2 separate regions of the Homo sapiens genome follow, and region 1 is linked to region 2. Evidence: fine-mapped expression QTL. A gene starts in region 2. The other region holds a variant in brackets. All regions are shown on one strand. Distances are from middle to middle.

Evidence for each region. PIP is the estimated chance that this variant, and not a neighbour inherited with it, causes the effect. A credible set is the group of variants that fine-mapping cannot tell apart.
Region 1: its variant is the best candidate, but not a certain one, in a credible set for the expression of DEPDC7 in whole blood (TOPMed, PIP 0.73).

What each region holds. Positions count from the first base shown.
Region 1 is chr11:33,044,063-33,056,281 of GRCh38, reverse strand. TCP11L1 (t-complex 11 like 1) reads right to left here. Exons shown (of 10, transcript NM_018393.4): 3 at 1,557-1,689. Among named protein-coding and RNA genes, the nearest start is that of TCP11L1, 11 kb to the right of the region's middle. RefSeq lists an enhancer at 5,921-6,421. The variant G/A (reference allele first, on the strand shown) is at 3,490.
Region 2 is chr11:33,012,867-33,024,821 of GRCh38, reverse strand. It overlaps DEPDC7 (DEP domain containing 7), which reads right to left and starts at 8,944. Exons shown (of 9, transcript NM_001077242.2): 1 at 8,794-8,944. The coding sequence starts at 8,866. It overlaps LOC105376615 (a long non-coding RNA gene), which reads left to right and starts at 9,032. Exons shown (of 4, transcript XR_931167.2): 1 at 9,032-9,545. RefSeq lists silencers at 8,670-8,729, 9,050-9,099.

The DNA of each region.
Region 1 (12,219 bases), 31 kb before region 2:
AAAATTAGCTGGGTGTGGTGGTGCATGCTTTATAGTCCCAGCTACTTAGGAGGCTGAGGCAGGAGAATTGCTTGAACCTAGGAGATGGAGGCTGCAGTGAGCTGAGACTGCACCACTGCACTCCAGCCTAGGCAACTGAGCAAGATTCCGTCTCAAAAAACAACAATGGCTGGCGCAGTGGCTCACACCTGTAGTCCCAGCACTTTGGGAGGCTGAGGCAGATAGATAACAAGGTCAGGAGTTTGAGACCAGCCTGACCAACAAGGTGAAACCCTGTCTCTACTACAAATACAAAAATTAGCTGGGCATGGTGGCGCACGCCTATAATCCCAGCTACTCAGGAGGCTAAGTCAAGAGAATCACTTGAACCTGGGAAGCAGAGGTTGCAGTGAGCCAAGATCATGCCACTGTACTCCAGCTTGGGCGACAGAGCGACACTCCATCTCAAAAAACAACAACAACAACAATAAAAATGTCTTTCTGTCTTGAGCACAAAACAAGCAATTCTTCACTATTAAATGCAAAAAAGTACCATCTTTGCAGATATAAGAAATCTCTGTGAAGTCATATTTAGAAGCTTCTTGTGGGAGACACTTGCCAGCACAGCAGCCATTCCTCCTCCTTTTGTTAACAGAATCCCAGTGTTTTTCAGGGCAACAATATACTCTGCCTGTGACAATAAATCATGACTAATCTAATAAGCCCATCACAGCAGTTCATTCCCTTTTAGCCAACTTAAGCTCTCCAGGTTCACTTATAGCAAGGGTAGCATGTGACTAAATTCTGATTAACAAAATATTAGCAGATGTCTGTTTCATGACTCCAGGGGAAGATGTTCCTCTCCAACAAAAGGAGAGCCCTAGTCCTCCCAAACTTTTTGCTCTTGCCAGGAAGGCTGATGTATTATGGGATGCTTGGAGCTGCAGCATTCATCCTGCAACCATGAGGACAGGCTAAGAGACTCTCAGGCACCATCCAGAATCCTGACTTTGGTGAGCTGCTGACAGAAAGGCACTTGCACGCATATTTCCTTGATTCTAAAACAAACTCCCCCCTCCCCAATATTTTAATCTCTCAGAAACTTGGATCTTTCTTAAAATCAATGGCATTTTTATAATTATAATGGGCAGTGTTTCCTCTTTCTTATGACAGCACATTTTTAAAAGGTGCACCTTACAACCAATAGAGTTTTTGATTCAATAAAAAAATGGTTAAGTGCCAGGCACTAGGGACACAGAGAATAACCCACAGTCTTCGCCTTTGCGATGAAACCAACAACTATAGTGCAGTGTGATAGTTTCAAAGAAGTGAATGAAACAAGGCAATGAAAACACAAGATGAGGCAGCTAGATCCTACTGAGTAGGCAGACTTTCACAAAAGATTTTTAGAGCTTTTATTTGATTTTTAGGTTGTTCCTTGTTCAGGAATATTTTTTAGCAATAATGTACAAAAGGAAAAATACGTTTGAATATATTGGTATCAACTGAAGGAAACATTTTCAAAACTGGGAAATGACAGTGTTCTACTAAGCAAGATAATTTAGCAACCACCTTACCTGTTTTCTGGTAATTCAACTGGTTTAATCTGAAAGTCTCCATTTACTACAATTTCATGGGCTAGAGCCATGTTGGTGACACCTCTCGCTGTCTCTAGAAGTTCTTCTACTGTCACAAAGCGAGGAGGACTAGCTGTAACAGAAACTCACTGTAAGAGATTTGCTTCCCTGGATCTGAATTTCTACTAAAATAAGAAAACAGTGGTTCTGGTACCAGACAATAATTTCAGTTATTGCGTCTATTAAAATGTTTGTTCTGGCATTTTCAAACAGCAACAGAATGTTACTTCATATTCATTTTTTACCCTTGAATCCTAAAAGCAGAGATCATTTATTAATACTCAAAACATCTGGTTTTTACTAAGACTGGTCAAAGGAAAATAATTACAGTAAACTGAAACCTAGGAAAACTTAAGTTACAGATGATCATCTGTCCCATAAGCTGAGGGTTTATTTTCTAGTCTTTCTGCCTCCTGTCTACCCTAAAAGAAAAAAAAAAAAAAGAAGACACCAGATTTAAGATCTTCTCTTTTGCTCCCATTAGCAGTTTACTTTTGCACTACCACTAACACTGCCACAAATGAATCTCCCCAAATTAAAATAGCATCAAGGCTAGGCACAGTGGTTCACACCTGTAATGCTAGCACTTTGGGAGGCCGAGGCGAGAGATCATTTGAGGCCAGGGGTTGGAGACCAGCCTGGGCACCATAGTGAGATCTTGTCTCTACAGAAAAATGTAAAAACTAACCGGGCATGGTGGTGCATGCCTGTAGTCCCAGCTACTCAGGAGGTTGAGGCTGGAGGATCGCTTGAACCTGCAGTGAGCTATGATCATGTCACTGCACTCAAGCCTGGGTAACAGAGCAAGACTCTGTCTCAAAAAAATAAAAATAAAAAGTTGTAAAAAATTAAAATACCATCAAGTCCTTTAGGGTGCCGATGGTGCTGTTTAAACAATGCTAAAACCACTATCTTGTACAGGATACTGTGACAGAATATGATAGCTCTGCAGTGGTCAATGGACAGATCAAAAGATGTGTGACACAAGAATTTTCTAGAATGCTGATCCAGTGAATCAAAAACTTTGAAAAAGAGTCATCTCTGATTTCTCTCTTTCCCCTGCTCTGTTATCCAAGTCCTGTAGATTTTACTTCTGTATCGACTGCTGCAACGGCCTCAAAATTTGTGTCCATACTTCTCTTTTGATAAAGCTTGAGACTGATCATTCAGAAAGAAGGTTCTAAACCAAGGAACAAAGGGGAATTCTTACTCTTAAAAGCCTATGATAAGGCAAGGCTCACACCTGTAATCCCAGCACTTTGGGAGATCAAGGCAGGTGGACCACCTGAGGTCAGGAGTTGGAGACCCACGTGGCCAACATGGTGAAACCTTGTCTCTACTAAAAATACAAAAATTAGCAGGGCGTGGTGGTGCATGCCTGTAATCCCAGCTCCTTGGGAGGCTGAGGCGAAAGGATTGCTTGAACCTGGGAGGTAGAGGTTGCAGTGAGCGAAGATCACACCATTGCACTCCAGCCTGGGCGACAGAGGAAGATTGTCTCAAAAAAAAAAAAAAAAAAAAGTCTCTGATAGCAATTCTCAAACTTTAGCCTATCATGGAGTCAGAGGGAGGACTTGTGAAAACAGATTGCTGAGCCCACCTCTCAGGGTTTCTGATTTAGCAGCTCTGGAGCAGGGCCAAAGAATCTGCATTTTTTATTTTTCTATTTTTTTTTGAGATAGGGTCTTACTCTGTCACCAACAGGAGTACAGTTGCACAATCATGGCTCACCCCAGCCTCAACCTCTCAGGCTCAAATCATCTTCCCACCTTAGCCTCCCAAGTAGCCAGGACTACAGGCACATGCCACCATGTCTGGTTATTTTTTCTATTTTTTTAAAGACAAGTTTCGCCATGTTGCCCAGGCTGGTCTC[G/A]AACTCCTGAGCTTAAGTAAGTGATCCGCCTGCCTCAGCCTCCCAAAATGCTGGGATTACAGGTGTGAGCCACAGCAGCCGGCCCAGAATCTGTATTTCTAACAAGTCTCCAGTTGATGCTGATGGCTCCAAACACCACAGTTTGAGAAGTACTGGCCTAGAAGATGAATATATTAATTTTATGTGATAGTGATAAGATCTGGCCTTAAAATTAGATAAGTAATGTCACTGGTTTGCCCAGGTTTAAAAGATCTTCTTACATTGGTGAAAAGTTATTTTCTTTCCTTTTTCTTTTGCGCACCAAAAAAAAGAAAAAAAAAAAAGGAACCAAATCGAAGAGCTGGTCATATCCTGCCTGGTAAAAAACTTTATTTGGTCACAAGGGGAAGTTGGGAAAACTCAGAATTCTTCCTCACAACATTCTCAGCATTTCCAAAGAATATGAATAAGAATACAGAATAAATAAATCTGGCTTTGTTGATATTGCTAAAATATAGTAAATATCCAAAATCAAAGCCCAATATATCTTTTCAATTAAAAAAATTTTTTTTAACTTTTAAGTTCAGGTGTACATGTGCAGGTTTGTTATACAGGTAATCTCGTGTCACGGGGGCTTGTTGTAGAGATTATTTTGTCACCCGGTTATTAAGTCTAGTACTCATTATTTTTCTTGATCCTCTCCCTCCTCCCACTCTCCAGTAGACCCCAGTGTCTCTTATTCCCCTCTATGGGTATATTATTAAGATGTCAATTTTCCCCAAATCAATCTATTGGTTAAATGAAATCCCAATCAGAAGGCTTTTTTGTTGAAACTGACAAACTAATTCTAAAATGTATAGGGAAACACAAAAGACCTCGAAAAGCCAAAACTATTTTGAAAAAGAAAAATAAAGCTAGAGGACTGACACTGATTTCAAGACTTATTATAAAACTATAACAAGACAGTGTATTTTTCCCATAAGGATATATAGAAATTCAGGGCAGAAAATCCAGAAATAGACTAATATACACACACATATATATATAGGTGGTCAACAGACAAGGATAGGCCGGGCACGGTGGCTCATGTACTTTGGGAGGCTGAAGCAGGTGGACTGCTTGAGGCCAGGAGTTCGAGACCAGCCTGGACAACACAGCGAAATCCTGTCTCTACTAAAAATCATTTAAGCCCAGGAGACAGAGGTTGCAGTGAGCTGAGATTGTGCCACTGCCCTCCAGTCTGGGTGACAGAGCAATACTCTGTCTCAAAAAAAGAAAAGCAAGGATAGTTTTGTTTGTTTGTTTGTTTTTAATCAAATGGTGCTACAACAATTAAGTATCTATATGTAAAAGAATTACTCTATCACGCCTGTAATCCCAGCACTTTGGGAGGCTGAGGCGAGCGGACCACAAGGTCGGGAGAACAAGACCATCCTGGCTAACACGGTGAAACCCCATCTCTACTAAAAATACAAAAAATTAGCCGGGCGTGATGGCAGGTGTCTGTAGTCCCAGCTACTTGGGAGGCTGAGGCAAGAGAATGGCGTGAACCCGGGAGGCCAAGCTTGCAGTGAGCTGAGATTGCACCACTGCACTCCAGCCTGGGCGACAGAGCGAGACTCCGTCTCAAAAAAAATTAATAATAATTACTCTAGATCCTTCTCTCAAATGATAAACAAAAATGAACTCAAAATGGATTGCAGAGCGGGGCATGGTGGCTCATGCCTGTAATCCCAGCCCTTTGGGAGGCCAAGGTGCAAAAATTGCTTGAGGCCAGGAATTTGAGAACAGCCTGGGCAACATGGCGAAACCCCATCTCTACAAAAAATACAATTAGCCAGGTGTGGTGGCATGCTCCTGTAGTCTCAGCTACTCAGGAGGCTGAGACGGGAAGATGGCTTAAGCCCAGGAGGCAGAAGTTGCAGTGAGCCATGACCCCGCCACAGCACTCCAGCATAGGTGACAGATAGAGACCTTGTCTAAAAAAAAAAAAGAATCACAGATAGAAATCTTTGCGATCTTGGATTAGGCAAAGATTTCTTAGATAGGATACAAAAAACTCAAACTACAAAATAAAAAATGGATAATTTGGATTTTATCAAAATTTAAAATGTACATTCCATGATAGACTCTATTAAGAAAATAAAAAGGTTTTTTTGTTATTTGTTTTTTGAAATAGGGTCTTATTCTGTTGCCCAAACTGGAGAGTGGTGATCACAGTTCACTGTGGCCTCAACCTCCCAAATAGCTGGGACTATAGGTGCACACCCAGTTCAGTAGGGATCTCCTGTATATATACATATGTATAAATATATGCTTATTTTTAAATTATTTCTGTTATCAGTTATCAGAAAATGAAACTTCCACTGTGGGTACATCAATATCAAGCATCAGGTGTTATTATCAAGCATCAGGTGTTATTATCAAGCATCAGGTGTTATTAAACTCCACCAAGGTCTTACCCCTTAAGAAGAAACTCAGAGATTATTAGGGCTCCCAAGTTTTTTAACCTTGCTTTTGCAAAAAATTGTGGGGAAAAGAGAGATCAGACTGCTACTGTGTCTATGTAGAAAGAAGTAGACATAAGAGACTCCATTTTGTTCTGTACTAAGAAAAATTCTTCTGCCTTGAGATGTTGTTAATCTGTAACCCTTGTCCCAACCCTGTGCTCACAGCAGAGACCTGTGCTGTGTTGACTCAAGGTTTAATGGATTTAGGGCTATGCAGGATGTGCTTTGTTAAAAAAGTGCTTGAAGGCAGTATGCTTGTTAAAAGTCATCACCATTCTCTAACCTCAAGTACCCAGGGACACAATACACTGCGGAAGGCCCTCCAGCAGGGGCCTCTGCCTAGGAAAGCCAGGTATTGTCCAAGGTTTCTCCCCATGCAATAGCCTGAGATATGGCCTCCTGGGAAGGGAAAGACCTGATCATCCCCCAGCCCAACACCTGTAAAGGGTCTGTGCTGAGGAGGATTAGTAAAAGAGGAAGGCCTCTTTGCAGTTGAGATAAGAGGAAGGCATCTGTCTCCTGCTCATCCCTGGGCAATAGAATGTCTTGGTGTAAAACCCAATTGTATGTTCTATTTACTAAGATAGGAGAAAACTGCCTTAGGGCTGGAGGTGAGGTGCTAGCGGCAATACTGCTCTTTAATGCACCCAGAAGTTTGTATCCGTGCACATCAAGGCACAGTACCTTTCCTTAAACTTATTTATGACACAGAGACCTTTGTTCACAGGTTTCCTGCTGACCCTCTCCCCACTATTACACTATTGTCCTGCCACAACCCCCTCTCCAAGATGGTAGAGATAATGATCAATAAATACTGAGGGAACTCAGAGACAGGGTGCAGGTCCCCTGGGCCCACTTTTCTTTCTCTATACTTTGTCTCTGTGTCTTATTTCTTTTCTCAGTCTCTCGTCCCACATGACGAGAAACACCCACAGGTTGTGGAGGGGCAGGCCACCCCTTCAAAAATAATCAATGTCTTACCATCTGAAATTTATGAAAACAACAGAAATACATCACATCAAGTCCTCTGGGTGAATTTTTTTTTTTTTTTTTTTGAGACGGAGTCTTGCTCTGTCACGAGGCTGGAGTGCAGTGGCGCGATCTCGGCTCACTGCAACCTCCGCCTCCCGGGTTCAAGTGATTCTCCTGCCTCAGCCTCCCAAGTAGCTGGGACTACAGGCGTGTGCCACCACACCCAGCTAATTTATGTATTTTTAGTAGAGACAGGGTTTCACCATGTTGGCCAGGATGGTCTTGATCTCTTGACCTCATGATCCACCTGCCTTGGCCTCCCAAAGTGCTGGGATTATAGGCATGAGCCACCGCGCCTGGCCGGATTTGTTATTTCCCAATAATTTTAGTCATCTGGGTAATAATAGGCACCGTTACTATGCTGCCTAGTCATGAAACACAGTGGCTGGAGCAAATCAGGAAGGAATTTCACTTCCTCTGGACTCTGTTGAGTACGGCCTTGAACAAGTCACTTAAATCTTGCAGGGTCAGTGTTTCTCCATATGCAAAAAGAAGAGACTTAAGGGTGTGCTATGAAATATAAGAATCCTCCGAATTTTAAACAAGTGCATTCTCAGTGTTTTGGGCATACTTGGAAAAAAACAGCTTGCACCAAGTACTAAGAACCTCACCATTAGGAAGAAGAAAATTTTCAGGAACTGTCCAAGTTAAGAGACTACTTAAAATCAAACTTATCAATGACAGGTATCTGATCATGATAGATAAAAGCTACAGTTCTAAGATATGATCAGGACATGTTACCGATGTACATACAGAGGAATTATTCACTGCATACAAATTATAGGGTTGTGGGGATTTTGTTTTGTGAGAGTTCTCAAATTTACCAATTTCATAAATGAAAACTTGGTAAGGATTGCATAAAATTGCATAAAGATGCAATTTGGTGGACAACACGTCTTCACCTCAATTTGTTAAGAGAACCTGGGTTGTAATAAGAGCCATGAAAAATGGTAAGGTCAACTCAGACATGGTGGTGCACACTTGTAGTCTCAGCTACTAGGGAGGTTGAGGTGGGTGAATCACTTGAGCCCAGGAGTTCAAGGCCAGCCTGGGCAACATAGAGTGATCCGGTCTTAAAAAAAAAAAATGTAAAGATACATGTAACTTACCCTGGAGTTTATCTTACGTGATACAAAGCTAAAGTTGTTGCTAAATTTTGTTATTTTGTTACAGCATTTGCGCACTGATGCCCTGTTAGAGAAACTGAAAACCATATTAGGTTAAACATGACTTTAGAGAGGCTGGCAGACAGATTCCAAAATAAAATGAAGTTCTAATTTAGAATGGTTGTACTCTCTATCTTTACTAAGGTGTCCTGAGATGCCTATACACTCTGAAAAGATGCTGTTAGTTACATAAGTGGACGGACATTTATGGAGGGCAAGATTGCAACTGTCACCCAAACAGCTACTATAGAATGAGCACAGTAAAACCAGGGTACAGATTACCCATAGTACTTATTATGTTGTTGGAAACTGCTTGTTAATTTGTCTTCCTGGTCGCTAGCCTGCAAGCTCCATGAGGACAGAGACAATATGTGCCTGGTTCACTGCTGGATCCCTGACATACAGTATGCACTCAATAAATATTTGACTGACTGAATACAGAGACACCATAATTCAAAGTCTAGTCATGAGCTTTAGAAATGTAAGTTCTCGTGTCATCTATTCATCTAAAGATGACTGGGATCTACTAATTAAATTCACAAGGACCTGATCCAATAAACAAAGGTCCTAAGTGGGAGATATTAACTGGAATAACAATTGATGTTTGTCATCTGAATATAGCATCTTTTACTGGTCAACTAGGTGATTAAACGTTAGAACAGAGGGTATTTTGTGAGAAGAGCATTAAAGTATAAGTAGTAGAAGATTTTAGAGAAAACATTGTTAAGTTACAGTTGACTGATCCTTACTCTGTTTAAAGAACAGATAATCTTTTACAATCAAATCACCACCTCAAATCAGTACCAATAAATTTTTTACAAGCCAGCCATTTTTCCTTTTTCAATATTCTGCATCGGTTACATCAGAATTCTACTCTTTTTTTTTTTTTCTTGAGATGAAGTTTCGCTCTTGTCCCCTAGGCTGGAGTGCAATGGCACAATCTCGGTTCACTGCAACCTCTGCTTCCCAGGTTCAAGTGATTCTCTTGCCTCAGCCTCCCAATTACAGGCACACACCACCACTCCCGGCTAATTTTTGTATTTTTAGTAGAAACAGTGTTTCACCATGTTGGCCAGGTTGGTCTCGAACTCCTGACCTCACCTCAGGTGATTCACCTGCCTCAGCCTCCCAAAGTGCTTATAGGCATGAGCCAATGCGCCTGGCCTAGCAACTCCACTCTTAAAGTATTACTCTGTGTTATAATTTAAAACAATAAATGTTCTCTTTTTGCTACTTACGTTTTAATTTGTAGAATTCCAAATATGATTTTAGAGTTACTTTAAACTCAGTAGCTACAAATTTACAGAGTTTGGGGGAAATGTCTGTAAACTGTTAATTCCATATTTTGTAAATCCTTATTTATGCTCTATGTGTTCAATAATGCTTCCTTACCTGATGCCCAGATAATGAGGTCTTAGCTTTATCTTTTGGGTTTATAGCCCTGTACCTACCTAGCACTACAGGAGAAATAGGAAGGCAGCCAAAAGGAATACCTTAGGGCATTGATTTTAAACCTTATTTTGGTACAGACTACTAAGAGAACTTAATGAAAGCTTCCACGACCTTATTCCTAAAAACATGCATATACAAACAAATGTTGATATACTTTTTTGGTTATTACTAGATCCCCTAAATCTTGATCATAGGTCCCAGGATAAGTATTCTTGCCTTAAGGGCATAACTACACACAATTTCAGATAATGTAGCTTAGTACTGGTTTGACATTAATTTGGAATCATGCCATCAGGCTGACAAGATGCCAAAGGCGAAGCCATCAACCAAAGAATGGCTGAACCTATAAAAGTTAAAATTGTTTAAAAAAATTAAAACCAATCAACCAACTGTTGGGAGAAGCTAAAGCAGGGCTTGCATGTCTCACTTAATGTAAAAGAGTCTTGGAACATGTCCAGGGTCCAGGGTCTAAAACCCCTCATGGCCTTGGGAACACCAAGCTCTGTGCTAAAGGGCAGAAGGCTGCCCTGCAGCACCATAATCTAAGCCCAGGGCATAAAACCCTTCGTGGCTTGAATGGAATCCAGGGCTCAGGGCGTGGCCTCTGGAATGTGTCTAGACTTGCTGGCTCCTTGCTTCTAGCACTCCTAGGCTCATAGATCTATTGTATCTTAAACTAGAACATGTTTCCCATTATCTCAAGTAGCAGAACATGTTCCATATGCTGCAAAGAAAATGCTAAACCGTCACAGCTGTAGATCATGTGCTTGATACACTGCTTTCTTTCAACCCCCACATCCTCACCACCTGCTTCTTTGTTTCATCACCAATGAATAGTGCAGGCTTCCAGAGCTCGGGGCCTTCGCAGCCTCCATACTAGCATTGGCCCCCGGACCCACTTTATGCACTCTTAAACTTGTCTTTTTCATTCTTTTGACTCCACTGGACTTCGTCACCTCCACGTTGGGTCTGGCCATCCCAACAACCAACCAACCAATAAAGGGTGACTGAAGACCTAAACCAAAAGTTCTTCTTTAGCAGAAACTATAGGTTGTAAAGCTATCATGTTAGCCATATACATCTACATTACAGCAATCAATCCTGGCCTCTTTATTTTTTTTATTTTTATTTTTTTGAGAGAGGCTTGTCTCACTCTGTCATCCAGGCTGGAGTGCGGTGACACAATCACGGCTCACTGCAGCCTTGACTTCCCCAGCTCAAGTGATCCTCCTGTCCCCGCCTCCCAAGTAGCTGGGACTACAACCACGTGCATGCTCAGCTAATTTTTTTTTTTTTTTTTTGAGACAGGGTCTTACTTTGTCACCCAGACGGGAGTGCAGTGGCGTGATCTCGGCTCACTGCAGCCTCCACCTCCCAGGCTCAAGTGATCCTCCTGCCTTAGCCCCACAAGTAGCTGGGACTATAGGCATGCACCACCATGCCTGGCTAATTTTTATTTTTTGTAGAGATGGGGTCTCATTATGTTGCCTAGGCTGGTCTTGAACTCCTGGACTCAAGTGATCTTCCTGCCTCAGCCGCCCAAAGTGCTGGTATTACAGGTATGAGCCACCATGCCTGGCCAATCCTGGCATCTTTAAATGCAATAGATGACATAATGTTAGTAGCAATAGTAGTAACAACAACTAATGTTTATTAAGCATTTATTACCTGTGAAGCACTGTTCTAAGTGCCTTATAGGAATTCATTTAATCTTTACTGCTACCCCAAGAAATATTGTATTTTCCTCATTTTAAAGACAGGAAAACAGAAGCTTTCTAACTACACATATTGGAGTCAGGCCTGACAAATGCATGATAGACTGTGCTAGCAACAACATGTTTCCTTGGACACAATTTGACCTAATAGTTGATTTATTAAAATCTATGTGATAATAAATCAGAATAAAATAGGGTCCATTAATGTTTGCTAGAAGAATAGTATGTTGACTAATAAATTGCCCGGGAAGGGCTTTGATCATTTTAGAAGAAACACACCCCAAAACCCAAAAATGTCTGTACTTTTTCCAAATACGTACAACTACTGATCATCTACAATTTAAAGGGATAACATCAATACCGACATTCTTAGACTATGACATTCCCTCTTAAAAACTTGCATTTTTGGACTCACTTCAAAATGCTTAAGGTACTCTTCATAAAAGACGTGAGTTGAGGCAACCACTGGGAATGCCTGAAGATATTGCCACCCTTTCATTTAAGAGGCTTGCTCCTTGCCAGGGATCTGAAATGACTTCACCACACACATTTAGCAAACTGAATCCCCTCAAGCTTGTGGGAACTAAGCCCCCAGGCAGAGAATTAGGGTGTGGTGAACTTACTCACATTTTTTTTTAACCTGCACAAGCACAGTCCTGGCTGGAATTAGCCTCAGACTTTTCAAACACTCTTTCAATACAAGCTGCAATTTATACTCCACCCTCCTATTTCTCAGAGCACTTCAGAGACTGGAGTGTCACTGAGGCTGGAGAAAGACAGGAACGTTCTGGACATTATTCTAAATTGTTAATTTCCCATGCAATTGAAAATCCACAAGTAGCTAGGCTGCCAGCTGAGGAACTGCTATTATTCCTA
Region 2 (11,955 bases):
ACACACACACACACACACAGAGTCATGCATCACAAAACAACATTTCTGTCAACGATGGACCACATATAACAGTGGTCCTATACAATTATAATGGAGCTTAAAAATTCCTGTTCCTATCTCTTGCTGTACCTTTTCTATGTTTAGATACACAAGTACTTATCATTGTGTTACAATTGCTTACAGCATTCAGTATAGCTCTGCAGGTTTGTGGCCTAAGAGCAACAGGCTACACCACATAGCCTAGGTGTGTAGCAGGCTATACCATCAAGGTTTGTGGAACTATACTCTATGATGTTTGCACAACAATGAAATCACCTGACAATACACATTTCTCAGAACATATCCCCGTCATTACACTACGCATGATTGTATACACACACACACACATACACATTGATACACACAATCATTGCAGGAATAAACTAATATTTTTAAAGCCTCCTATTATGCAGGCTTATGAGTTAAATACTTTGTATGCGCGGTAAAGTAACAATTTGGTTCCTGCCCTATAGGAGCTTATGACCTATTGCAAAGACAGAGTACGCACAGAAGAAAGCAAGATTTTTGCCAAACACAAAAGGAGAAAAACAAACTTTCAAAAATATCCTATCACATTTTTCCTCATTGTAATTAGCAGATATTTGGAAATCAATAGGAAAGAAATCAGGTCTTGGGTTTTTGTAAACCGATGGAATGGATTCCAGTGAATCACTCACTTGGTGGCTGGCTGGCTCCCTCCCTTTTTTCCTTTCATAAAGAGTAGGCCCTTTAATGTGTTACACTTTTCAGTGATCCTCTGAAAATTCAGCAGTCTTAATTTAAGCCCCCATTTATGTTAAGTATATTACTTCCTTTATTTTTAGATATTTTGGCAGAGAAGGTGAAGTTATTACTTCCTTTAAGATCGTCTAGAAAGGAAAACCATATGCATGAGTACAATGGTAAGGAAAAAAGGGAATTATAATTAAAGAAATTGCTACTTGAAATTATCTTCCTACTTTTTTAGGCAAAATAGAATGTTTAAGATGAAGAAAGCATAAGATAAGCTCCTGAAGGACATTATTAAAACTCCTTTACAGCCTGCCGAAGGTGGTGAAACCCTCTCTACTAAAAATACAAAAATTGGCCGGGCGTGGTAGCAGGCACCTGCAATCCCAGTTACTCAGGAGGCTGAGGCAGAGAATTGCTTGAACCTGGGAGGTGGAGGTTGCAGTAAGCCAAGATAGTGCCACTGCACTCCAGCCTGGACGACAAAGCAAGACTCCGTCTAATAAATAAATAAATAAACAAAAACTCCTCTTAGTGCACTAGAGCCATAAATTATAAGTGGGTCATTTGAAATTCATCTCTTACGTTGCAATAAATATAAGGAGTACACTGAACCACTACACTGATTTCACTTGTAGCATAATTCTGTAGCTACTAGCAATTTAAACATCTTTATAGTGAAAATGAATAGCATATACACAAATACACAGTCCTTTATTGTTTATTTGTATATTTCTAATACCAAAAGTAGATGGGTAATTTACCACCTACCCATTATTATAACGTTGGTTTAAAATGATCAGCAAGATTTTTTTTTTTTTTTTGAGACAGAGTCCCTCTCTGTCACCCAGGCTGGAGTGCAGTGGCGTGATCTCGGCTCACTGCAAGCTCCGCCTCCTGGGTTCATGCCATTCTCCCACCTTTAGCCTCCCAAGTAGCTGGGACTACAGGTGCCCGCCACCACGCCCGGCTAATTTTTTGTATTTTTTTTTAGTAGAGACAGGGTTTCATCGTGTTAGCCAGGATGGTCTCGATCTCCTGACCTCGTGATCCACCCACCTAGGCCTCCCAAAATAAGCAAGATTGTTTTTAATTGTCAAAATTGTATTTTAAATTTGAAGATATTTCATAAGCCAGTACTAAACAAAGATGGAAGTAATTGTTGCCAGTCTTCCAAATATAATGTGAGCTATTTCAGGAACTGAATTATGGAGAATTGACTAAATAAATCAAGCTGGAATTAGATCTACTCTTGGTACAGTATTTAGTCTCTGTTGAACAGAGCAAGAATGAGGCATTTGATGGAATCTCAGAGTAAGTCCAGGTCATTTCTGGTATCCAGAACTCAGGAGTAGTTGTACTATTTCCAGCCACAATGCCTAAACATTGTTAGCGACTAATATTCTTAACTTCCTAAAATACCAGAGATTATAAATAAGATTTAAAATAAACAATTTCTGCTTAATTTTTCAAATCTTTATTATTAATAGCTAACATTTGAGTATTTACACTATGACAGGCTCTGTCTTCTCGCATTTAATTCTGATAAGCTTCTCTGCAAAATGATTATTAATAATCCTATTTTGAGGAAATTGAGGCTCTGTGAGTTAAATGTGCCCACAGTTACACAGCTGATAAATATATACTAGTGTTTCCTAGTACTTAAACATAAATATATGAAAAGTCAGCCATCAGATAAGTTGTTTAAGCATTAACCTTTCACTGGAAACTTGGATTAAGTGAAACAGCTTTAAGAGAGCCAAGAGATAAAACAAACTCTAAGAACCCTTAACCAAGCTATTTAAAAACAGTAGTCACTACTCATAAAATAAGGCAGGATATCATAAATTCTGTAATAAATACTACCACAGTACACAGGGTAAGACAGGAAAAGGAAGACATGCAAGATTCAAACTTCAATCAGACTGCCTTTTAAGAACCAATGAGACAGACTTTTGGACTAGTGATAATATAAAGATGAAACACATAAGTCATAACACTTGAGCTATAAGTAGGTTAGCACACAAATCCTAAATGACAAGGCTGAGTCACTTATTAATTACAGATCAGTAAGACAGCTGAAGAGGGCGGTGAGAGGGGATATTTGGCCTCAATGAGTAGAAAAGGCTAATCTTCACAGAAGAATTAAGAGGTAAAGAATAAATTTCCCCATATTAACTTGTGGGAAATCAGGAGGTTCTGCAGGTTGTATAACACTGCATAAAAGATTAAAGAACTAGTTAGAGCAGGAGAGTAGACACCTGTGAACCACAGGTTTCCAGAGTCCTCCAGGCATGATACAATGCAGCCCTCACAGGTCCCCTCTGTTCTCACTGACCATTAATTCCCAACCATTGCATCCTGGGATATTTCCCTTCAAGCACCACCACCCACAAACTAGCTCATGTTCATACAGATGCTTTCATACACAATGTACCCTGGACTTGACAAGTAAATGTGCCAAAACCCATACCAGGATAACCTGCTTTTTAAAATGCTGACTTCACCAGCTGAACATATATGGTTTGAAACTTATTTATCGTCATTTAAAAGCTGAAATGAATATTGGTATAGCAGATCATGGCCCAGTAAGATGACTTACTGTGATTTCTAAACAGGATTTAAGAGACCAAAAATAGACAATGAATGTTTTTTAAGTCTTGCAATCAGAATTAAGGGTTCAGCTTGTCCTCAAACCTCACTTTCATATGAGCTAAACAACCTTTTAAAATCCATCACTATCTACATCTTGATGCTTCCTTACATTTGGTCAAGCATTTTCTTTTTTTTCTTTTTTTTTTTTTGAGATGGTGTCTCACTCTGTCGCCAGGCTGGAGTGCAGTGGTGCGATCTTGGCTCACTGCAACCTCCAACTCCCTGCTTCAAGTGATTTTCCTGCCTCAGCCTCCCAAGTAGCTAGGATTACAGGCACGCGCCACCACGTGCAGCTAATTTTTTTTTGTATTTTTAGTAGAGACAGGGTTTCACCATGTTGGCCAGGATGGTCTGGAACTCCTGACCTCGTGATCCACCCACCTCGGCCTCCCAAAGTGCTGGGATTACAGGTGTGAGCCACCACACCCAGCCTGGTCAAGCATTTTCTAAAAGCATCATAACAAATGGAATCAAAGAGTTTAGAGATCAGCTGTAAAAACTCTGGATAAGAGACAATCTCTGTAAGTAGGTTTCTTTATCTACTGATAAAATAGTTGAACACAATATTTTAGGTTAGTTTCAGGTCTAAACTGCCAGGGCAGGCACAGTGGCTCATGCCTCTGACCCCAGGACTTTGGGAGGCCATGGCGGGAAGATTGCTTGAGGCCAGGAGTTCGAGGTTACAGTGGGCTAGGATCGCACCACTGCACTCCAGCCTGGGTGACAGAGTGAGATCCTGTCTTTAAATAAACTGATTATAGGAATGTAAAGACTGAAATTATATCTCCTCCATTTAGATAAGGACATTGAACACCAAATATGGCAGATCTATAGGCAAGAAAGGAAGCATATGGACAAATTTGACCCTACCAGATACAAAACCTTTTGGAAGGTTGCCTAAGGAGGCTCAGGAATAATTTGATTATCTAGCCTTCAACACATAGTCTCAAGCACTATATAAATCTAGGCTAGTTAACCTTCATTTTTCAAGCAGTCTCATCCTTATTTGCTTGAAAACAATAGCTATTTTTCAAAAGCTGCCCTTCACATGTATTTGAACTCTACCATAAAAAACGTTTACCAAAAGTAAAAGTTAAACTTCTAAGATAATATTGAACACTTATATATACGTGTAGTACCAGTAATAATCATCCTCACTTCTAAGAATTCACACTAAATAACTGAGTCATAATAATTCCCTAAAAATGTAAAGAAATTACATTTACCCAAAAATTAGGGATAATCAGCATCAACCATAATCCACCCTGTCAGCAACCCTAGTCCTACTGTGAAAACCTATGAAAACCTATTTAAAGGGAAAACAATTGTATAATCACTTCAAATAGTAAGATTATATTAAATCTTTAGAAGTAGATCAATATACACATTATAAAATTGGATCCCAATGTAAGGTAAACATACACACAGAATTAATAAAACACACTACCTCTTAATGAACATATAACAAATTTGTTTCCATTCTCGGTCTTTAGACTGGACTTAAAAAAAAAAAAAAAAAAGGAACTGAATCCAGACAGTTGATGTTTCTCCATAAAACTTTTAAGAGATGGTGAGCTAGTGCCCGATTTCTTTCAGATTTCCTAGCGGTTTACAGAGGTTTAAATTATTTAATTGCCTTACAGATTGCCTCAATATAATACAATTGGTTAGTCAATATTTGTTAGTTGTTAATTATTGCTAACTACTAAAAAACTTACTTTTTTTTCTTTTTTGAGACAGAGTCTCACTTTGTCATCCAGGTTGGAATGCAGTGGTGTGATCTCGGCTCACTGCAACCTCTGCCTCCTGGGTTCAAGCGATTCTCCTGCCTCAACCTCCTGAGTAGCTGGGATTACAGGTGTGCGCCACTACACCCAGACAATTTTTGGATTTTTAGTAGAAATGGGGTTTTGTCGCATTGGCCAGGCTGGTCTCAAACTCCTGGCCTCAAATGATCCACCTGCCTCAACCTCCCAAAGTGCTGGCATTACAGGTGTGAGCCACTACACCCCGTTCATAAAAAAAATTTTTAAAGGAAGGTTAACCCAGTGGTTCTCAGTGGGTGATTATACCCCCAACAGGACATGTCTGGAGACATTTTTGATTGTCACAATGAGTGTGGGTATTGCTGGCATCCAGTGGGTAGAGGGATGCTACTAAACATCTTACAATGCACAGACAGCACCCACAACAAAGAAAACGTCAGTAGTGCCAAGGTTAAGAAACCTTGGGTTGACTGAATACTGTTCAGACATGGAAACTTGAGTTAACGCAGCAGACACAGTGCTAGGTGCTGTGACTACAAAGAGTTAGACCAGTGTGGACTCTGCAGTCCCAGGGACCTGAGTTCCGTTGTTGGGTCCATCATTTACTAATAACACGATCTTGGGCAAACTGCCTAACTTTTCTGTTGCAAAACAGAGCTAACTCCACTTCTCTCACTCATTGCGAGGATCATGAGACAATATGTTAATGTGTCTCGCAAAATGTCCAGAAATTAACAGATGTATCACTAAAAACAAAAGGAGCAAACTGTCACAGTCTAGAAGAGTAGATTCATTACATGACAACTGAATGTAATATAATATCTTGGATGGGATCCTGGAAGAGAACATTAGGCAAACACCAAGGGAATCTAAGTGTGGACTTCAGTTAATAATTATATGTATCAATATTGGTTCATTAATTATGACAAATGGACCATACTATTTAGTGAATCTAAAATTTTATTTTAAAAGTAGAAAGAAAAGGGAGGTATCTTTCTTCCTCTTCCTTCCTCTGAACTCAGAGGACACAGTCCCCAACCTTAGGAGTTTACCTTTTATTTACTCCTACTACCTGGATGATAATGTCAAGTTCTGAATAGTATTCAATCACATAAAGGCCAACAGGAGATGAGAAGACAAGATGTGACACATACCAGAGGATTTAACTTTTCATCAGAAAATAACACATCTATAAATCCTAGACCATTTAGGATTTAAGAGAATTTTAAGAAAGATTTTTTCAAAAGAGGTTTTAAAATATTACTCACACAAAGAATTGTCAAGACAACAAAGAAAAAGGACATTTGTTGGATAGTAACCAAAACCTCATGAAAATATTAATAGATAAATGTAAAGAGAATTGTGTTTATGGTGTTAAAACTTGACAGTTGTGACTGAGTGGAAAAATTTTCTATACTATGATCCCAAGATTACAACACTTTTACTGGATATTGGTTCTGGTAGTCCAAAGTTTATTTTCCTGCTAGTTGGCATTAGAGGCGTCATGCTGAAGACTGCGATTGCCTCTGAAAAGAAGGCTGCAGGTAGGTAAAAGAAGTCTACCAACAAGAAAAATTTACAATATCTACGAGAATTATCAGCAAAAGCAGACATTGGTCTCTGCTTTAATTCACATACATTAATGAGACAGCATATGGGAAGTACTTTGAGCTCCCTGGAAAAGTGATACCAGGCAAACTCAAAGAATTAGGTTACAGTATAAAGGGATAACAGGATAACAGACTACTTTCTTGTTTGTCGTATTAAAAGACAAGTGTTTTTGACATACTGGCTGAAGACTGGCATATAGATCTCATTTCTTGTACATAAATCAGGTCCCTGGTCATTACAGCCCCTTTAAGGTAAGTGAGAGTTACTAATCGGTGGAGAAACAAAAGTACAAAGCTGCCTGCCAGAGCACACAGAAAGAGAATGGCAAAGAACCAATAACCGTGTGCTCCCACTACCTTGCTCACTGGAACTATGACAAGGCAACTAAAGGGTGAAAGAAAGGCTAACAAATGTTACCAGGTCGGGATTCCAGCGGTAGCAAGCAAAACGAGTGAGAACAACAGCGGGCCCCTCTCCGTCCACTGCAGCTAGTGTGCCGAGGACAGTGTTCCTTTGATTCCTGATAACCAGCACTTCAACTCTTCCCTTAGAGAGTTATCTACTTAATTTCTGAATACATACTTCCTTACACCATCTAAGAACCTGTTCACAAATGCCCAAAGCTCCAGAATTGGTATTTCAGCTATTAGAGAAAACAGGGTACCATGTTTTTATTTTAAGCAGGTGACATTTGGGAATTTCCTTCACTGAGTAAGTGGGCCCAAAAGATTTCTCAAGACTGTTTTCAATGTCATTTGGTTTTAAATTCCCAAATGTCTTAGCATTTGTCTTCTCTTCACAACATAAATCAAGGAGACATTCTCAATGTGGCCACTATGTGCTTACCTGAATCCTTTACATGGAAGCAGACTAAGGTCAATATTATGATTTTTCTTAGAAAAGGACAAGTGAAAAATGGTTCTCTACCATAATCTGTCGTTAGCATTTTGAAGATTAAAATGAGCATTAGTGAGTAAGTCAAACACAAGAGTGGGGCCACTGAGAAGCACCCATTTGACCCAGAGGAAGGAATCACAGTTTCACTGGTTGGTGTTTTTACAAATGAAAGGCTTTTGTCAGAAAGGGAACTAATTCCTACGACATCCCAGACTGGAGCTCCAGAAAGGGGAAAAAGTTGTAACTTAACCAAAAGAAAAAAGCCAAGGGTTATCTGAGTATCTTAACAGTTATCTGAGTCACCCCTATTAACTGGGTTGTAGATCTGCTATAACCAGCATTTTAGAAGTGATATCCGATTCTCTTCATGTGTTTGAACATTTAAAGAAACCAGAATCCTAAATCAACTGCCCCCAAAAGACACGATTAGGCCCGTGGCAGAATTTGCCAACTTCCCTCCTAATTTCATGTAACTGTTTTTTTAGCCAAAAACTTCTATTCACTAAAATACTGCTTATACATAAAGTGTTAATAAATACCTTTTATGCCAAATTCCTGCCAGTAGAACTCACATAAACCTCTCATCCCTCCCAGGAAGAGTCTGGGGAGACAAGCTGACTCTTGACTCCTAGCAGTCTGGAGAACAAAGTGGGCAAGGGAGGAGCTCGGCCCCTGGCCATACTGTGTCGTCAAGGTTTGTGGTTGAGACAGGGGGCAAAGAACTACACAAATTCCAGATACCACACTTGTCACCGGTAGCACCGCGGAGCATATCCCGGAGCTCCCCGGCGCGTGCCTGGCACGTTAGCGGGCGCACAGACCAACGCGCGGTCAAGTTGAGAGTCTGGGTAGAAAGAAAAAAGCTGGGCTGTGCGGGCGGGCTCTGCCGCTTGCAGCCCACCAGCCAGAGAGGAACTCGATCCGCCCGCTCGGCGGGGGCGTTGGCCAAGTGGTCGCAGCTGTGCTGTGCTCGCCCAGCCGGCCGTTGACAGGCGCAGGCGGCCGAACGCCCCACGCCGCCCGCCCCGCGCCGGGACCCAGCCCGCGCACCCCAGCCCGCCCCGCGCCATCCCAGGCGGCAGTCCTCGGCACCTACCCGGAGGCCTGTGCGCGGGGCTGTGGAGAGCCGAGAGGTTCAGCGCAGCAGCCTTCTCCTGCACGGTGGCCATGGCCCTTGCTCCCCGGACGCCAACTCCTCCAGCAGCTTCACAGCTCCCTAGCTCCCTGAGCGCCCGTCTGTTAACTGTGCGGGGCGTGGCTCCCTGCAGGCCCCGCCCCCGCTGCCGGTCACGTGTCTCTCTGGCAACCACTGAACGTAGCCCGCGGCGCCAGCGATCCAAGTTTCCTCGGGCGCGATGCCACGCGAGCGGTGGTCGGGGACAAAGCGGTTCCCTGGGCCGGCACTACGCGGCCCGCGGCTCACACCAGCGGGATTCGAACCGCGGCCTGCCGTAGATTAACTCGGGACCAGGCCGGGCGCGGTGGCTCACGCCTGTAATCCCAGCACTTTGGGAGGCCAGGGCAGGTAGAGCACCTGAGGTCAGGAGTTCGAGAGCAGCCTGGCCTACATGGCGAAACCCCTTCTCTACTAAAAATACAAAAATTAGCTGGGCTTGGTGACAGGCGCCTGTAATCCCAGCTACTCGGGAGGCCGAGGCACAAGAATCGCTTGAACTCAGGAGGCGGAGGTTGCAGTGAGCCGAGATCCACCACTGCACTCCAGCCTGGGCGACACAGCGAGACTCCGTCTCAAAAAAAAAAAAAAAAAAAAAAGAAATAGAAAAAGTCGGGAACCTGGCAAGCTGCCTAACTGCTCTGTGCGTCGGTGTCCTCACCTGTGATGCGGGGGTAGGTTTAGTACCTGCTTCACTGAGATGTTTGTTTGTTTTTTAACGAGGTTTATAGGAACCAATTCAGGTTCAGCATTTAGTAACTGCGTCCGGAACGTAAGTGCTTAAAATTATGTCATAGTAGTAGTAGTAATAGTGATAATAACAATAATAATCGAGTTTTTCAGACATCCCTACCTGTGCAGAACAAACAAATCCTATGTGGCCCAGGAGAGCAATGTCTAGAGGTCACAGGAGGGCAGCAACGAAAGACCCTGGGACTGGCTGCCAGGAAATCTGTGCTGCCTCCAAAGGAACTGTGGGTCGGGTGGGTAGGGACAGTTTGCTGCCGGTTGGAGTGAAGGTGAGGAGAGAAAAGGAGGAAGGGCTATTAATGGGACACATCTTAGTTACTTGGAAGTTGAAGCCAGGCCAGGGATCCAATGCTGGATACCTCTGAAAGGATGAGTGGTCTTAGAGACCAATAATCCAATTGCCAGACACTTGCCCTTTTTTTTTTCTTTTTTTTCAAGTTTGGGAATTTTGCAATGATTTTCAAAACGATTATGACGTCTTCTTAGAAGGAGGATGCTTGTGTGATTTAGGTGTAAATTAGAATGGTGTTTAAGTGGGAGTTCATTATTTAGCTTATTGGAAAGAGCTTCTACATGGGATTGTTTCAGAGAATACATACTAAGAAGCTGCCCCTGGGGACTTGGGTTTGTGGGTGGGAGGTGGGGGCCAGTTGCTGCTGCTTAGTGTTAGAAAAAGCTGGCCAGGCACGGTGGCTCACGCCTGTAGTCCCAGCACTTTGGGGGGCCCGAGGCAGGGGGATCTTCGAGGTCAGGAGTTCGAGAACAGCCTGGCCAAGATGGCGAAACCCCTACTAAAAATACAAAAACTGTCCGAGTGTGGTGGCAGGCACCTGTAATCCCAGCTACTTGGGAAGCTGAGGCAGGAGAATCGCTTGAATCCAGGAGGCGGAAGTTGCAATGAGCGAAGATTGTGCCACTGCACTCCAGCCTGGATGACAGAGTGAGACTCCATCTCAAAAAAGAAAAAAAAAGGTTGCCAACCAGTTGGCAACCTTTTTTTAATGTGACCTCTTCCCCTGATGGTAGTAAAACCCTGCTTTACTTCTGTTTAAGGATTTTCTTTGTAATCTCTCAATTGGCTGCTACACACAGAAAGAGGATGCATTCAGGGCTGGTTTCAGGCACCCAGTATACCAATGAACTTTATCCCGTGCTGTATAACTGAATGAACACACAAGTCCTCCCTCACTGCATGGGAGGGGGGAAAAGCTCATCTGTCTCAGAAGACAAATCTTGAAAAACACTAATATTTGAAAAAGCTTGGTGACCTCAGTGACCATTTTGATACTTTATATAACATTTCAGAGAGTTTTTCACCAGGTTATGCAATAATTGTTTACCTCTTCTGGAATGCTGAAATGTTCATCTCTACTCAGATACTTTCTACAACCATGGGATAGGAAATGCCTATCCCTTTTCCCACTTTCTTCCCTGGACAGATTTTTCCAGGTTACCCGGGTGTGTTTTTTTTCTCTGAGCACCTGTGGCACTTATCAAATGCATTACTATTCATCTCCTGCTTGTATTGATACTCTCTGATTATTACAGCACACACATATCTTTTTTTATTATAATTTAAGTTCTAGGGTACATGTGCACAACATGCTGGTTTGTTACATATGTATACATGTGCCATGTTGGTGTGCTGCACTCATTAACTCGTCATTTACATTAGGTATATCTCCTAATGCTATCCCTCCCTGCTCCACCGACCCCACGACAGGCCCCAGTGTGTGATGTTCCCCTTCCTGTGTCCAAGTGTTCTCATTGTTCAATTCCCACCTATGAGTGAGAACCTGTGGTGTTTGGTTTTTTGTCCTTGCGATAGTTTGCTGAGAATGATGGTTTCCAGCTTCATCCATGTCCCTACAAAGGACATGAACTCATCCTTTTTTTATGGCTGCATAGTATTCCATGGTGTATATGTGCCACATTTTCTTAATCCATTCTATCATTGATGGATATTTGGGTTGGTTCCAAATCTTTGCTATTGTGAATAGTGCTGCAGTGAACATACGTGTGCATGTGTCTTTATAGCAGCATGATTTATAATCCTTTGGGTATATACTCAGTAATGGAATGGCTGGGTCAAATGGTATTTCTAGTTCTAGATCCTTGAGGAATTGCCACACTGTCTTCCACAATGGTTGAACTAGTTTACAGTCCCACCAACAGTGTAAAAGTGTTCCTGTTTCTCCACATCCTCTCCAGCATCTGTTGTTTCCTGACTTTTTAATGATCGCCATTCTAACGGGAGCACACACATATCTTAATTGCCTAAGAAAATTGGAAAATTGCCGGGTGTGGTGGCTCATGCTTGTAATCCCAGCACTT